4 linked regions of the Homo sapiens genome follow. The protein of the gene in region 2 purifies or fractionates together with the protein of the main gene of each other region. This does not show direct contact. Each region holds a gene or a part of one and is shown on either strand. Other genes may lie near its edges.

Region 1 (4,287 bases), on a different chromosome or scaffold from region 2:
GGCTCTGAGCTGGCTTGGCACAATGTGTCAGGGTGAGGGGGCCCCTTAGGGGCCTCAAGCAGGAGGGCTGAGGGCACCGCTGGTTCGTCTGTTCATGGTGGGCGGCTTTGTGTGGCCACCAGTGCTGGGTGGTGTGGGTTTGGGCTGTTCTCCCTCCTGGCTCAGCACGGGCCCGTCAGCCCAGTGTCCTTTGGGCCTGCCCTTCCCCTAGCATCCCTGGTTGGAAGGGTGTCCTCACAGGGCTGTGGGCGGGCCAGGGCTGGCTGCTGGTTAAATTTAGTGTGGGGGGTGGGGCAGCTGCCCAAGGTCCACCTGCCACCAGGGCTGCCACTTGGACTCCCTTGCCAGGGGGCGGGCAGGGGCTGGCTCTGCCTGGGGCCAGGCCCATGTTAACCTGTGCCCCGGCCTGGGGGCCAGAGGGGCAGGCCTGCGCACGGGGAGGCTGTTGTGGCAGCGGAACAGAGACGTGCACGGTGAGAGGCCTGGGGGCCGGCTGTCCAGGGCTCCCGATGGCTTTTCTCCCAGCCAGCAGGATCAGAGGAGCCAAGGTCCGACTTGGGCCTGGCTGGTTGCCCACAGCCCTGCTCAGAGGGCCGGCTCCCTGACCCCCATGGTTCAGGTTTCGGTGCCCGACGCTGGGGTGGGCCAGCGTGGAGCCTGGCCTTTCAGCTCAGCAGGCCTGTGGAGGTGGGGCTCTGACGGCCTATCCCAGCTCGTTTCCTACTCTCTCCTCCAATCGGGAACAAGAGGGCTGGAGAGCTCAGGTCACCCCTAGCCTCGGGTGTGTCCCAAGGGCAACCCCCAGCTGGTGCCTGGTGAAAGGGCATGACAGCAGCCACGGTGTGAGCTGTCCCAGGGCTCAGGGCTGGACTGCCTGGCTCCAGCCCCCTCCCCCAGCCCCTCGCAGTGCTCATCAGGGACCAAGGTCCAGCTACAGAGCTCTTGCAGCCTCTGGGCCATAGCTGCCAGCTCTGGAGGGTCCAGATGGAACCCAGAGCCTGAACACCCCTCCCCTCCCCCCAGCACCCCCTGGATTCCTGAGGCCTGGCTCAGTTAATAGGAGACAGGTCCGCTGGCCCAAGCAAAGATGCGGGTGCCACGAGGGCCAGGCCTCGGCCAAGCCCTGCTGGGGTAAATCCCAGCAGCCCAGGCTCCAGTCTCGCCTCGGGGGTCCCTCCTTGCCAGCTCTGCCAGCCCCTCAGGGCTGCTGGGCACCCCTTCACCTCCTGAGCACCCCAGGTGCTCAGCCCTCTCCCCCTCCCCCCATGTCTAGTCCCTCAGAGCTGTCCGGACTGACGTCTGTACCTACCCCCCATGTGGGTCTCCTGCTCTCCCTTCGTGGGGACACTAGGCAGGCACTGGGCCTTGCCCCAAGCCCCGCCTGCCACCTCACCCACTGCCTCTGCCTCCCTGGGGCAGAGCTGTTCCCAGACGGGTGGGGCGGGGCCCAACTGTCCCCAGCTCCTTCAGCCCTTTCTGTCCCTCCCAGTGAGGCCAGCTGCGGTGAAGAGGGTGCTCTCTTGCCTGGAGTTCCCTCTGCTACGGCTGCCCCCTCCCAGCCCTGGCCCACTAAGCCAGACCCAGCTGTCGCCATTCCCACTTCTGGTCCTGCCACCTCCTGAGCTGCCTTCCCGCCTGGTCTGGGTAGAGTCATGGCCTCGAGCACAGGTGACCGGAGCCAGGCGGTGAGGCATGGACTGAGGGCGAAGGTGCTGACGCTGGACGGCATGAACCCGCGTGTGCGGAGAGTGGAGTACGCAGTGCGTGGCCCCATAGTGCAGCGAGCCTTGGAGCTGGAGCAGGAGCTGCGCCAGGTATGGCCCAGGGCCCCTCGCTGCCCTCCAGGTCACAATGGGGTGGCCGAGTTGGCCCCAGCCCCACTGGCACATGGGACAAGGGCTGAGGGGTTAGGTAGGGCACAGTCTCCCTGCCTGCTCCCCTCCCCTCCCAGGGTGTGAAGAAGCCTTTCACCGAGGTCATCCGTGCCAACATCGGGGACGCACAGGCTATGGGGCAGAGGCCCATCACCTTCCTGCGCCAGGTGAGGCTCCTGCACTGCCCGGAGCACCCCCCCACCCCCAGCCCATGTGCCCTGGCCTCAGCACTCCGTCTTCCCAGGTCTTGGCCCTCTGTGTTAACCCTGATCTTCTGAGCAGCCCCAACTTCCCTGACGATGCCAAGAAAAGGGCGGAGCGCATCTTGCAGGCGTGTGGGGGCCACAGTCTGGGTGAGAGCCAGGGCCAGGAGGAAGCAGAGGGCCGCCCTGCCACTGGAGGAGGGAAGTCCCTTGGGAGGGCTGAGGAGAACTTCACCTGTACTTCCCATCCTGTCCTGCCCGAGTCCAGGGGCCTACAGCGTCAGCTCCGGCATCCAGCTGATCCGGGAGGACGTGGCGCGGTACATTGAGAGGCGTGACGGAGGCATCCCTGCGGACCCCAACAACGTCTTCCTGTCCACAGGGGCCAGCGATGCCATCGTGGTAGGCTGGGCATGGGCACCAAGACATTCCTGACACTGCAGAGGGGGCGCCCAGGGTGGGGGACAGGTGCGGCCCCAGGCCTCGCCAACCCTGCCTTCCCCTTCCTTTCCGCAGACGGTGCTGAAGCTGCTGGTGGCCGGCGAGGGCCACACACGCACGGGTGTGCTCATCCCCATCCCCCAGTACCCACTCTACTCGGCCACGCTGGCAGAGCTGGGCGCAGTGCAGGTGGATTACTACCTGGACGAGGAGCGTGCCTGGGCGCTGGACGTGGCCGAGCTTCACCGTGCACTGGGCCAGGCGCGTGACCACTGCCGCCCTCGTGCGCTCTGTGTCATCAACCCTGGCAACCCCACCGGTGCGTTCCCCGCCGCCCCGCCCCACTCCCCCCGCGCCCACGTTGCGTTCCCCGCCGCCCCGCCCCACTCCCCCCGCGCCCACGGTGCGTTCCCCGCCGCCCCGCCCCACTCCCCCCGCGCCCACGGTGCGTTCCCCGCCGCCCCGCCCCACTCCCCCCGCGCCCACGGTGCGTTCCCCGCCGCCCCGCCCCACTCCCTCCGCGCCCACGGTGCGTTCCCCGCCGCCCCGCCCCACTCCTCCCGCACCCACGTGCGCCCTGGCCCAGGCAGTGCCGGGTCCGCTGGACCCCGGCTGCCCAGCGGAGGGCAGTGCGCCCCCTTGGCTCACCCAGCACTGCTGCCTCCCCGGCACCCCAGGGCAGGTGCAGACCCGCGAGTGCATCGAGGCCGTGATCCGCTTCGCCTTCGAAGAGCGGCTCTTTCTGCTGGCGGACGAGGTGCGCGGCGCGGGGGAGCGGGAAGCCGGGCAACAGTCCGCCCCCGTGACGCCTTGCGCCCTTCCAGGTGTACCAGGACAACGTGTACGCCGCGGGTTCGCAGTTCCACTCATTCAAGAAGGTGCTCATGGAGATGGGGCCGCCCTACGCCGGGCAGCAGGAGCTTGCCTCCTTCCACTCCACCTCCAAGGGCTACATGGGCGAGTGCGTGCGTACGAGGCGGGTGGGGGCTCGCGGGCCATGGCCAGGCCCTCCTCGCCCGATGGGCCACCCCCTCCTCCGCACCTGACCTGGCCGTGCGCAGGTGCGGGTTCCGCGGCGGCTATGTGGAGGTGGTGAACATGGACGCTGCAGTGCAGCAGCAGATGCTGAAGCTGATGAGTGTGCGGCTGTGCCCGCCGGTGCCAGGACAGGCCCTGCTGGACCTGGTGGTCAGCCCGCCCGCGCCCACCGACCCCTCCTTTGCGCAGTTCCAGGCTGTGAGTTGGGGGCAGGAGGGGGTCCAGGTGACCTAATCAGGGGTGGGGGATGCCGAGTGCCGTGCCCTGATGGGCCCTCCCTCCGCGGCCACAGGAGAAGCAGGCAGTGCTGGCAGAGCTGGCGGCCAAGGCCAAGCTCACCGAGCAGGTCTTCAATGAGGCTCCTGGCATCAGCTGCAACCCAGTGCAGGGCGCCATGTACTCCTTCCCGCGCGTGCAGCTGCCCCCGCGGGCGGTGGAGCGCGCTCAGGTCAGGCGGGGGCGGGGCCTGCGGGGTGGGCAGGGGGGGCCGGGCATCCCTCTCTGACGGCTCTCCGTCCACAGGAGCTGGGCCTGGCCCCCGATATGTTCTTCTGCCTGCGCCTCCTGGAGGAGACCGGCATCTGCGTGGTGCCAGGGAGCGGCTTTGGGCAGCGGGAAGGCACCTACCACTTCCGGTGAGGCCTGGCCCTCACTCCCTGTCCCGCCACCCTGGCCCTTCACTCACTGTCAACTCCTTTCAGGATGACCATTCTGCCCCCCTTGGAGAAACT
Region 2 (4,217 bases):
ATGATGTATATGTATATGATGTATATGTATATGTATATGATGTATATGTATATGTATATGATGTATATGTATATGATGTATATGTATATGTATATGATGTATATGTATATGTATATGATGTATATGTATATGTATATGATGTATATGTATATGTATATGATGTATATGTATATGATGTATATGTATATGATGTATATGTATATGTATATGATGTATATGTATATGTATATGTATATGTATAAGCCATACATTTATAGGACACTTTACACTTGTCAAGAGTTTTCCCGGGATGGGTGTGATGGCTCACGCCTGTAATCCCAGCACTTTGAGAGGTCAAGGTGGGCGGGTCACTCGAGCCCAGCTCATGTGGACCAGCTTTGGGCAACATGGTAAAACCTCATGTCTACAAAAAAAATAAATAAATTAGATGGGTGTGGTGGCACATGCCTGTAGTCCCAGTTACTCAGGAGGCTGAGGTGGGAGGATCACTTGAGCCTGGGGAGGTTGAGGCTGCAGTGAGCCATGATTGCACCACTGCATTCCCACCTGGGGAGCAGAGTGACACCCTGACTCAAAACAAAAAAAACAATAAAAAAGAGTTTTCCCATGAATTACTTTATTTCAATATCCGTATAAAGCAGGAAAAATGGGTATTATTTCCTGCATTTGACAAATGGGAGAAACAGTAGTTACACGGTTAGCTCAAGTGATCACTGTTTAAGAGGTTTGTGGCAGCAACATCTAACTTTTAACTCACGAACATGGTTTTAAATGTCTTACATGAGAGATGTAAACAAGAATGTTTCATTTTCAAATAGAACACTTATTCCTGCATAATCGAGTCACCACCGTGGGGGCCACACAGCAGCCAGGGGTCCAAGTTTCCAGCCCCAGAGCTTTCCAGCCAGGGAGGGCTGGCCCAGGGCCCCTGTGGGGCTACTTGGCATCAGGTGTCTGGAGACCCGCCCCTGGACTCCACCCTCTTCACCCAAGCGTTAGGCACGTGTGGGCCGGAGTTTACACAGGAGGACCTTAGCGGGGCGTCTAAAAGAAGGGTGGCTCAGCAAACACGGGGCAGTGCGCCCTGGGATTCACAGTGGGAAGTGAGTGGCCTGCCTCGGCCATGCCAGCTGCGCCTGACCCTGTCGGGAAGGATTAGCTTTAATGAGGGGTCCGGACAGCCCATTCACTGCGCACTCCCACCCTGCCCCGGGAGAGCAAAATAACTTTCTCTACGGAGCACTCTGGTGTGTGTGTGTGTGTGTGTGTGTGTGTGTGTGTGTGTGTGTGTGTGTGTGTACACAAACATTTACTTGGTTGGCTGAGGCGGAGGGTGTGACCCAGTGGGCCACACCTCCCACCGCCCTACCCCGCTACGTGGAGGCGAGGAACAGTGGCCGCGGGCTACCGGGGCGCCTTCCGAAAAGAGAACCACTACGCGGCCCGCCGCCCCTCTGGCTGGACAAAGTGAAGCCGCAGGCAGATCCGAGTCGCCAATGTCCTCCCGGGCGGCTGGCGCGGACGGGGCTGAAGTTCAATGCAGCCTGCACGGATTAGGGAGCTCCGAGCCCCCAAATACCACAGAGACCCAAAGTACACTCCCGGGGCGGGGGAAGGGAACGGCGGCAGAGGAGACCCCCGCTCCAGGCCCAGAAACGCCCGGAGAGAAACTGGAGCGGAGGGGGTGCATTGGAAGACGCAGCTACACAGCTCCCCCCAACCCCCGCCCCGCTGCTTTCCCCACCCACCGCCCCTCCCCTCTCCTCCCTCCCCTCCCCTCTCTCCGTCTCCAGCAGCCGAGCGCGGGCTCCACCTCCCCGGAGCGCAGTCCACACCGTCCCTTTTCAGCAAAACAACACAACGCACCGCCCCCCGCACCCGCACCCGGCTGGATACCGGGCTACGCCCAGCCGCCCACCCGCCGCGCCCGGCGCCCCCTCTAGTCTGCAGCCGCCCAGCCCCCGCCCCAGGCGGAGCCCCAGCCCTGGCTGCACGCGGGCAGAGAGAGAGATTGAGCCCCGGCTCCGCCAGCCCAGCTCGGGCCCTGTCCCTCTACCCTTTCCCCAAGCCGCCCGAAGTGACAGGAGGGGCACGCACGGCGCGCGCGGGGCGTCCAGCGTTAACCGCTTCGGCGCCGGGGACGGGAGCGACAGGAGGGCTGGGGAGCAGGGGACCGAGTGCTGGGACTCACCGGAATGTGCACGCGCAGCGAACGCCTCTTCTGGCTGGCATTTTTCTTGCCGCCGCTCCCGCCGGGGCTGGAAACATCTTTTTTCTTCTTGGTGTCCATAACCGCGCTTCCCATAACTCTAACCAGAAGTTGATTCTGCGAAACTCCTCGGGGGTTCGGTCCCCTCCTTCCCTCCCCCGGCCGCTGCCTTCGGACTGGAGCCGCGCGCTCTGTTACACCCTGAAGCCACCTCGTGGGGACTTCCGCGGAGAGGGAGGGTGAGCAGGGAACTCGCGCGGCCGCCGCCGCCGCCGAAGCGCCGAATTCAAGCGTCCTTTCCTACGGAACCCTCGTAGGCAAATCAGTCAAAGCCCGTCCCGGTTCTGGTGTCTCCCCGGGTTACTCGTGGCTGAGGTCTCCCGCTGGGTGACAAAGTTTTCTTCCTTTTGCAAAGCTAAGAAACATTTTCCACCCTCTCGGCTCCTCCCACAGATTCCCAGAGGTAATCTGAAAGGCAGGTGCAATTAAAACCAGCAATTTGGAAAACAAGCCTCCTATGCCTGTGCCCAAGTGGGGAATCTGGAACCAGTAAGCCCGTTCGTGCATAAATGTAATCCTCGGCCGCAGAATAAACCAGCTCGGAGCCTGCAGCTGGGTCCGTCCTCCTTTCTGGGCGAGAGGGAGGGCGGCGGGGGAAGAGGAGGTGCAAGGCGAGCCCTCTGCGCAATTAGGCTACGGGCGGCCGCTGGCAGAAGTTCTGGCGGCGGCGCTCGCGGCCCTGCGCGCCGGAGGGGGCGCCCGGAGTCCAGCGGGCCAAGAAGGGCAGGGCGCCCGCTCCTCGCCCCCCGCCGCGCCGCGGCCCCAGGGGACCGCAAGGGGACAGTGAGGGGCCGGGCCTGGCACCGACGCAAGCTCGGGGAGCGCGGGTGGTGGGAGGCGGCGCGTGTTGAACAGGAAGTGCGCGGCGTGCAGCGCCACCGTCCCGCTCCCCGTCGCCCCACGCCGCCCTCGTCGCCGCGCCCAGACCCCTGCGGCGGCCGCAGCCGCTTGGGACTCGCTGCGAGCTGGTTTCGGATCCATCCCGCCTCCCGGCGTCTCACTGTGTGCCCTACCCTTTGAAACACGCCCCCGCGCCCGCCCTGCCGTAGACCAGGCAGCGAGGAAGCCCACAGTCTCCGGGGGCGCTGCGCGCGAAGTAGCACGTGCTTCTCGAAACACCGCAGCCCCCGGGTCCCGCCCCGCCCGGCGCGCGCACTCGAACCCGCCCAGAGAGCGGTGCGTGGCGCTGGGTGCGAGCAGGGTCTAGCCACCCCCACCCTCACCCCACCCCACCCCACCCTGCTTTTTTCAGGTTCATCAAGGTTTGCGCAGTGGATCCGCGGTAAGTGCGTGTCCCCACGCCGCGGGAAACGTGGGGCTCCTGAGACTGCGGAAAGAATTGGGAGAAGGGGAGGGCTCGAAGACCCGGGCGAGGGTTCCCGGTGCGGCCCAGGTCCTTTAGAGCCCCGGGTGGGCATCCAGTACCGCCTGCTGCCGAGGGCCCTAGAGGGGTTGGGGGAGGGGGCTGGTGTGTCCCCCACCCCCAGATGCGCCCCAGGATGGCGCGACCTCGGCTCCCTGGTGGAAAGTAGGGGGAGTGCTGGCTTGGGGGTCGCTTCCCCTCCTGCTCTAGTTTCTGAGGATGTGATGACCCCAAAGGTCATTGGCGCTCCCAGAATGCTGACGTCAGCTCAGCCGCTCCGAGTAATCAGTAATGCAGGGAGGCCACCCGCAGAAAGAACGCGACAGGGGTCGCTTTGGGGACACCATAGGGCCTTTACTCCTTTTGAGGTGCGTGCTTTCGCAGGACTCCCTCCCCAGAGGAGGAGGCATGATCAGCCCACCCAAAGGATCATCTCTTAGGAAGCAGGCGTGCGCCCACGCAGGGAGAAGCATCCTTCCTTTCAGCTGCTTGCCGGGTGGCTTTTCCAACCCGAGTTCCAGCAGCTTGCACAAAATCCTTACAGCTTGGGTGGTTCCCTGGCTCATAGGGGTGGGTTTATATTCT
Region 3 (3,500 bases), on a different chromosome or scaffold from region 2:
CCTCGTAAAGTTGTTTTGGTTAATGCATCTGCTGAGCAAGTGAGTAACTTTGAATGAAAGGTATGTCTTTTTTTTTTTTTTTTCCAGAGAGTGTAAATTAAACACTTTCCTGAAGCTCTTTTCTCCTACTGTCATCCTTTAGGATCAGAGTGGAATATATCTGAGGCCCACATTCCTCTTCCTGAGCGTGTCCCTCATGGTCCTAGGCTGGCAGGCTCTTCTCAACTTAAGCAGACTATGGAATGCTCTTACAGGCTGCAGCCCCTTCAACAGGCTCTTCCTTCCTTAACTCTCTCTCCCTCTAAGACCCAAATACTTTTATAATATTAACACTCCTGAGATGAATCACTATGTTTCAGTCAGCTAATACTTTTCCTAATCAGTCGATACCTTGGCCAGGATTATCTGACATTGAGTTGAAGGCAAGATGGAACAGACTATCCCTGAGGGGAACCAGAAGGGTAAAAATGGACCTCGGGAAACAGAGAATAGTAATGACCTATTGGCCCAATTTTACAACTTTGCCTTGGTTGGTTCTGGCCAGGCCACTAAAAGTCAATTAGATGTCAAACAGTTTGCTGGACAAGCTTTAAGTATTTGGCAGGTGTTAGCCCTGGCCCTTGAACCTATTCTAGAGCCCAGGAACTAGTTTGCATATGTTTAATATTCCAAACAATCCACTCTTTAGCCTAAGAGCCCTGGATTGAGTGATTTTACAGACGGCAATACAGGAAAAGCAGGAAGAGTTAAATTCTTGCTCTTGGAAGCTTATCTCTCCTTCCCTCCTACCTGGCAGTTCTTCTCCCACAGAGTTCGCAGCGTCAAACTTTCCACACTGCAGGCTGGGCACAGCTTGTTTCCAAAGGCCTCCTGGATCCGCAGAACCAGGCATTTGTGATGGGTCTCATCCATGGCATAGAAGTGGTTGAAATCCAGGAAGATAATCTCCTGGGGGTGCTGTGTAAGAAACGAGTCAATTTCCATCAGCCCATCCCAGACCTTGATGCCAAAAAGCCCATGGATGAAGTAGATCTCCTGGTCGGCATCCCCTGGTTTGGAAGACACACGCAGGTCAAAGTAGCGGATCCCAGCTTCCAGCTGTTCTCGAAATGTCAGGTTCTGAGTCACAGACCACTTCTTCATTAGCTTCTTCACCAAGGAGATCCTGGCGAGGCGTTTGATAGCTTGGGTTTGGTCAGGCCCCACTGGGGACTTTTCATCCACCCAGTAGCTGAATGAATCATGTGAGCCTGTACAAAGGAATACAGGTGAGGAAAGCAGATGAGACGGGAGCTGGGAAAAATAAGCCAATTGATGAGAAAACAAAACAAAACAAAAATTAAGCACCAAATAACATACTAAAACTGCAAATGAATAGTAGCAAAATTTGCCAAGCTTGCTAGGAATAAAATAAACACAAAGAAAAGTAATGTAGCAGCTTGTTAAGCCTGGGGTAATACTATAGTTTTCATATATTTTGCTGGCATAAGGCAAATTAATAAATATCCTTTTGCAAAGCTATTTAGAAATATGCTGAAAATAGGGGCTTTAAAATATTCATACAATTTGCTCCAGTAATTTCATTTCAGGAAAGCTATTCTGAGGAAATAAACTCTAACATTCAGGAAAACAAAGATGTCTGCCAAAGAATATTCATAATAGAGACAAACTGGAGATAATGCTTAAGTGTCTCTTATAGAAGAATGCTTTGTTGTGGTATATCCACTTTATTCATGCCATCATTGAAACAGAGGGTATGAAAACACTGTGTCTATCTCAACAATGCCGAGAAAGGGATTTAAATTCTAGGAAAGGCAGGATTTCAAGAAACTAAACTTGCTTTCTTTTTATGTTTTTAAAATATATAAAAAATTGTATATATTATTTTACTATTGTAAAAGTCTGAGTCAGTAGGAATGATTTATTGACAGATCAGCTAACCATTTCGATGGGCTCAACACAGTTTAGTTAATATGTCCCTCTTTTTGAATTCGTACCTCAATGAGCCAAAACTGCTATTAAATGGTCCAAACGCACATTCTGTTCCTCTGTCTTAACAAAGGGATAGTATGAAATGTTTTGTAAATGTCTGTTATGCCTGTTTGGTCTATAGTGCAGATTAAGTCTGATGTTTCTTTGTTGATTTTCTTTCTAGATAATCCATCTGTCCAATGCTGAAGAAGTCTGCAACTATTATTCTATTGGAGTCTACCTATTTAACTCTAATAATATTTGCCTCATAAATCTAGGTGCTCTGGTGTTAGGTGTATAAATATATTTACAATTGTTATATCCTCTTGCTGAACTGATCACTTTATCTTTATATAATGACCTTCTTTCTCTTTGTGTTTTTTTTTTTTTTTGCCTTAAAGTCTATTTTGTCTGATATAAGTATAGCTAATTTGCACACTTTTGGTTTCCGTTTGTGTGGAATATTTTTTTCCATCCCTTACTTTCAGTCTACGTGTGCCTTTACAGGTGAAGTGAGTTTTCTGTGGGCAGTATATAGTTGTGTCTTTTTTTTTTTTAATCCATTCAGCCAGTCCATATCTTTTAATTGGGGAATTTAACATTTACATTTAAGGCTATTATTGATAGATGAGGACTTAGTCCTTGTCATTTTGTTAATTATTTTCTAATTACTTTGTATATTCTTTGTACCTTTCTTCTTCTTTTATTGTTTAACTTTACTATAAGCAAACATAGAAGAAATGCTTCAAGACATTGGTCTAGGCAAAGGTTTCACAGCTAAGACTTCAAACACATAGGCAACAAAAACTAAAATAGACAAATGGGACTATATTAAACTGACGTCTCCACCCTAGCAAAGGAAACAATCAAGAGCGAAAAGACAACCTGTAGAATGGGAGAAAATATTTACAAACTATTCATCTTACAAAGGACTAATATCCAGAATATACAAGGAATTCAAACAACTCAATAGCAAAAAAACTAAATAATCAAATTAAAAAGAGGACAAAAGAATTAAATAGACATTTCTCAGAAAGAAGACACACAGATGGGCATGGTAGCTCATGAGTGTGATCCCAATACTTCAGGAGGCTGAGACTGGTGGATCGCTTGAGTCCAGAAGTTTGAGACCAGCCTAGGCAACATGTGTGAAACCCTATCTCTACAAAAAATACAAAAAAAGTAGCCAGGAGTGGTGGTGCACACCTGCAGTCCCAGCTACTCAGGAGGCTGAGGTGGGAGGATTGCTTGAGATCAGGAAGTTGAGGCTGAAGTGAATGACAAACATCGTACCACGGCACTCCAGCCTGGGTCAGAGTAAGACCCTGTCTTTTTAAGATGTTTGTCATTCACTTCAGCCTCAACCTCCTGGTCTCAAGCAAACAAACGAACAACAACAAAACCATATAAATAGTAAACAAACATAGGAAGCAATGCTCCATGTCGCTAATCATCAAGGAAATGCAAATCAAAACCACAATGAGGTATCATCCCTGCCCAGTTACAACAGCAATTATAAAAACAAAAAA
Region 4 (4,118 bases), on a different chromosome or scaffold from region 2:
TGCTTCAAGTGATTGTCCTGCCTCAGCCTTCTGAGTAGCTGGGATTGCAAGTGCCCATCACCATGCCCAGCTAATTTTTGTATTTTTAGTAGAGACAGGATTTCGCCATGTTGGCCAGGCTGGTCTCGAACTCCTGATCTCAGGTGATCCACCTGCCTCAGCCTCCCAAAGTGCTGGGATTACAGGCGTGAGCCACTGCGCCTGGCTAAGACCAGTTCGTTTTAATGGTTGGAGGTAGGGTTTATGTTTGCCTGTATATTTTGGTACAAAACTATAATCACACATACTTCTCATTATATTATTTAATGTCCTCTTAAAAAAGGCATGAAATATATTCATTTCAGAGTTTAATGTTAAGAAAACCTGTTTCCTATGATGAGCTAGGACACTATCTTTTTAAAAGATTTTTTCCTCCCACATTCTCTTATCCCAGATTTATCAGTTTATATCCTTTTTTTCTTATTTTAGTAGGCTAAATTTTTATTTTTTTCTTTCATTCATTAAGAAACTTCATGTTTTTGGAAGTAATGGGGATATTAATACATTATTTAACTAAGTAAATATTTAACTTCTGATAGGAGGAGCTTGTTTTCATTTCCCTCAAGTTTGGACATTCAGACTAGGAAGTGGGGAATTGAAGGGAAATGGTGAAGGCCATACATAGTGGGGTGAGGTCCTGTGCGAAGTTGGGAAGGGAAGACATGAAGGTACTGCTGTGAATTTCTTTTGCCTTCCACATCTAATGTCTCAACACTGACTAGAAGGGTGTTTGCATTGGCAACAGGCTTGGAGATTCCCAGTAAGTTAGGCTTCAACTTTTGAACCAAGAAATAAAATGGGGAGTATTTTCTCCCTGTTTTCACTTACTGCTCCACCTTCAGTCTTTACGGTTACTTTCCCTCCTTCTTTGCTTTGTATAGTGCTCTTCACATAGGATTCCTTGGGCTCCGCCACAAAGACAGATGTTTTAGCATCAAACGGCTTGTTTTGGGCCTCAATCCGCTCCTTTTCTGATTTTCGAAGGTAGGGAGCAGCTTCGCCAAAAACAGCCATCTCAGCGTCTGAGCTCGCACTCATGGCTGCGATTTATTTAGCAAAGGATTCTGCCTAGGGAGGAGAGAAACGGGAGAGAGAGATATAAAAAGCAGAAGTCACAAATGTGAGTTAGGATTTGAAATGAAAGAAATGTTGAACATAGCCTGTGCTGTAACTATTCCTCCAAACTGGCACTCCCCAGTGTTCTAACATAGTCTAAAGGACAAGTATGGAGTGAGACTGTAATTTGAGATTTCATTTTTAGGACTGTGAATTTCCTTTTCAGATCACATATCTTGATCCTCAGGGATAGGGTACCTACAATTGAATTAGAATGAAACCTCTACAGCTAAAACTATTGATGGATTGTTTTATAGCAACTGTCATTATTTAATTTCCTCTCCTCTTTCTGCATAATGTTTGTCTATGCCATATGCCAGGACAATCATATGGTGAGAAAAGAAAGTTTGTCTTGTTCAAATGAAGGTTCATATTTTCAAAGCTATCAAAAAATCTTTGCCTTTTAAGATGGCCATTTTCTCTCATAAAGCAAATAATTATTTTTAACATCTTTATGTTGATATTTGGTGTTGTATCTCTCAGTGGATTGTTAGAAGAACATAATACATTCTAATACTCTGGATTTTTTGTAATTTGGGTTGTTCCCAACAGACTTAGCATTGCCTTGATTCCAAAATCTTTTTTGACATGAGAGATTTCAGCTGTCAGTTAACAGATCTAACCACAGAGGAATGAGAGCTTCAGCACAAAGGCCCTTCTTCCCACATAAATTCCATGGGTTTCTTTTCTTTCCACCCAGAAAACAGAGAAAAAAGTTTTAAGAGTACATCACATGCATGTAAGCCATTGTCTTCTGATTAATAGATAGGCCTCTGCAATGTGGACATGTTAGATTGGTTGAGTTTTTCCTTTATTTTCAATTAGAAAGTTACTTAGGGAAGGGCAGGATTCCTCTTAAATTAGTCATGGTATTTAACACCCGGTGGATGTAATACTTGCGACCTGTTAAGTAAATAATAATAAGTCTTTCTAACAACAAATAACAAATAATCAAAGGTAGCTAAAATATTTATATTTATATTTCTAGGTAAAAATCTTTCTGGAGTCTTTAAAAATGTCTATAAAATGTCCTAAGTCCTCAATGCTTTGCCATAGAAGAAGACTGGCATGGACTAGTCTATTGCCACTGGACAGTTCTAAGCACAGCTGAGAACTCACTGTTGAAGCTAATTCTGTCCTAAACGGTCTTTGAATCTTGGAACCCAAATGAGGATAGTCTCTGAGAAGAAGACATTTTGAAAAAGTTATTTTCTAGCATTTATAAACACTCACTCGGAAACACTCTTTCCTGATATAACTGCAAAAACATGGAAATGGTGTATAATTCAGGATTGTTCACAGCTTCATTAGACTATATCCCCTCTGTCATCAATAAATTAATAAAGCCAAGTCTTACCTCTGGAGTTCCAGATAAAAATGCAGGTTCAGAAGTGTTCCACTCTGTAAAACAACAAGCTTCTTATTAGTGATGCTCCGAAATTCCAATATTATAGTTACAGAATTGTTATTATAGTTACAGAATTGAAGTTTCCCTACCCCAAAGCTTGGTTCTATGAAGACAAAAGTTAAGATTGAGAGAGCAGTTTAATGCTCACAGATAACTACGAGGTCAGCTCTTTTCCCCACCTGGGGTTTTTCGAGTTCCAAGGCCTTCATCACTTACCTCTGGGTTCTTGGTGGAAATAAGGCACAAGGGGCAGTCCTGCTTATATAGGAACTAATGTGCTGATGCTGCAACTACCTCCTCTTTGTTAGGGCAAGACATTTGGCAACATGAACCCTCAGCATAGTTTGTAGTGACATTTGTCATGTTTGGATATAATTAGAAGTATTCATATCATTTTGTGTATGCAAACCAATCTCCTATAAATAATTTGACAGAGACCGATCTGCCAGCAGAGAATGCTTTCTAGTGTGCTGGGAAGGGAATCTTTGACAGTGCCTGATGGGGCCTCAGAGTAAGTTCTTAAGAGCTATATTCAATTTGGCAAACTCTTTCATGCACGCCTGTGGTAGCCAAATGATCAGATACCCGGGGCACACGGCTGTCAGGGCCTTAAGCACGTTTCCTTATTTGCTACCACGGGAACCCCCCACTGCATTCCCTTGGGCCACTACAGATGCTCACTCTTGAAGTCCAGGCTTAGACAGCAGAGATTCTACCTTGAGTCTCCACCATTGGGCCAGTGCCCACTCATCTAACTTTGAAAAACATTATTAGTAGAAAATAATATGTTTATTACAGAAAAAAATACAGGTAAGTAAAAAAAGTCTCTGTAATCTCTAATGCAGAAATAAGATAGAGGCGTATAAGTGGGATCATATTATAGATGCATATATAGTACATGTGTGCCTTGTAATATGCTTTAATAATTAATATATCATATCACTAATGTAATTTATACCCTATTCTTTAAATAAATTATGATTTTTTTTAATTAAACTCTTTCCTTTTTTTAAGGTCAGATATATTGAGGTATAATTTACATAGAGTCAAATTCACCCTTTTAAAGTGACAGTTTTATGAGGTTTTTTGCTTTTATTTTTAAAAATTTTTAAACTTTATAATAAAATTTACTTCTTTTGTTGTATGATTGTATGAGTTTTTATACACGTATTGATTCATGTAGCCACCACCACAGATAGGATGCAGAACAATTCCAGGCCTATGGGTTTGATAAATATATGCAGGTGTGTAACCTCTTACACTGTAATTACATAAAAATTAAAGCCTTAGAGATTAGGCTAAATTTTCCCTTTGATGAACACTCACAATGCTGGTATCTCCCTTTTCTCCCAAGGTAACTACGGATACCCGTTTAGTTTGTAATATTGCAGACCTTTTCTGTACATTTACATATGTATTTTCTGGGAAAATATAAATTAGTAAAACTGGTCTAAGGAAATTGGGCCATAGAAAATTTATAATATATAATATAGATGTTTAAAATATAGATAGTATGATTATTTATTTACAAACTTTCTTTTTTCATTCTACACTC

What was found. The genes of interacting proteins can lie anywhere in the genome.
Region 1: the proteins of PRKAG2 (region 2) and GPT purify together in Homo sapiens (affinity purification with mass spectrometry, with the first as the bait; one large-scale study listed by BioGRID). This does not show direct contact.
Region 3: the proteins of PRKAG2 (region 2) and PLCXD2 purify together in Homo sapiens (affinity purification with mass spectrometry, with the first as the bait; one large-scale study listed by BioGRID). This does not show direct contact.
Region 4: the proteins of PRKAG2 (region 2) and MYH8 purify together in Homo sapiens (affinity purification with mass spectrometry; one large-scale study listed by BioGRID and IntAct). This does not show direct contact.

The regions. Positions count from the first base shown.
Region 1 is NC_000008.11:144,502,653-144,506,939, forward strand, and holds the start of GPT (alanine aminotransferase 1), read left to right. Parts: upstream 1-1,487; 5' UTR 1,488-1,652; coding exon 1,653-1,814; intron 1,815-1,951; coding exon 1,952-2,041; intron 2,042-2,118; coding exon 2,119-2,227; intron 2,228-2,312; exon of another isoform or gene 2,313-2,345; coding exon 2,346-2,479; exon of another isoform or gene 2,480-2,514; intron 2,515-2,593; coding exon 2,594-2,837; intron 2,838-3,195; coding exon 3,196-3,275; intron 3,276-3,342; coding exon 3,343-3,479; intron 3,480-3,579; coding exon 3,580-3,754; intron 3,755-3,848; coding exon 3,849-4,004; intron 4,005-4,078; coding exon 4,079-4,191; intron 4,192-4,257; coding exon 4,258-4,287. UniProt on the Homo sapiens protein: Catalyzes the reversible transamination between alanine and 2-oxoglutarate to form pyruvate and glutamate. Participates in cellular nitrogen metabolism and also in liver gluconeogenesis starting with precursors transported from skeletal muscles.
Region 2 is NC_000007.14:151,874,316-151,878,532, forward strand, and holds the start of PRKAG2 (5'-AMP-activated protein kinase subunit gamma-2), read right to left. Parts: upstream 2,801-4,217; 5' UTR 2,306-2,800; coding exon 2,192-2,305; intron 1-2,191. UniProt on the Homo sapiens protein: AMP/ATP-binding subunit of AMP-activated protein kinase (AMPK), an energy sensor protein kinase that plays a key role in regulating cellular energy metabolism.
Region 3 is NC_000003.12:111,705,676-111,709,175, reverse strand, and holds part of PLCXD2 (PI-PLC X domain-containing protein 2), read right to left. Parts: intron 1,251-3,500; coding exon 790-1,250; intron 1-789.
Region 4 is NC_000017.11:10,419,151-10,423,268, forward strand, and holds the start of MYH8 (myosin-8), read right to left. Parts: upstream 2,801-4,118; 5' UTR 2,780-2,800; intron 2,557-2,779; 5' UTR 2,513-2,556; intron 1,108-2,512; 5' UTR 1,078-1,107; coding exon 868-1,077; intron 1-867. UniProt on the Homo sapiens protein: Muscle contraction.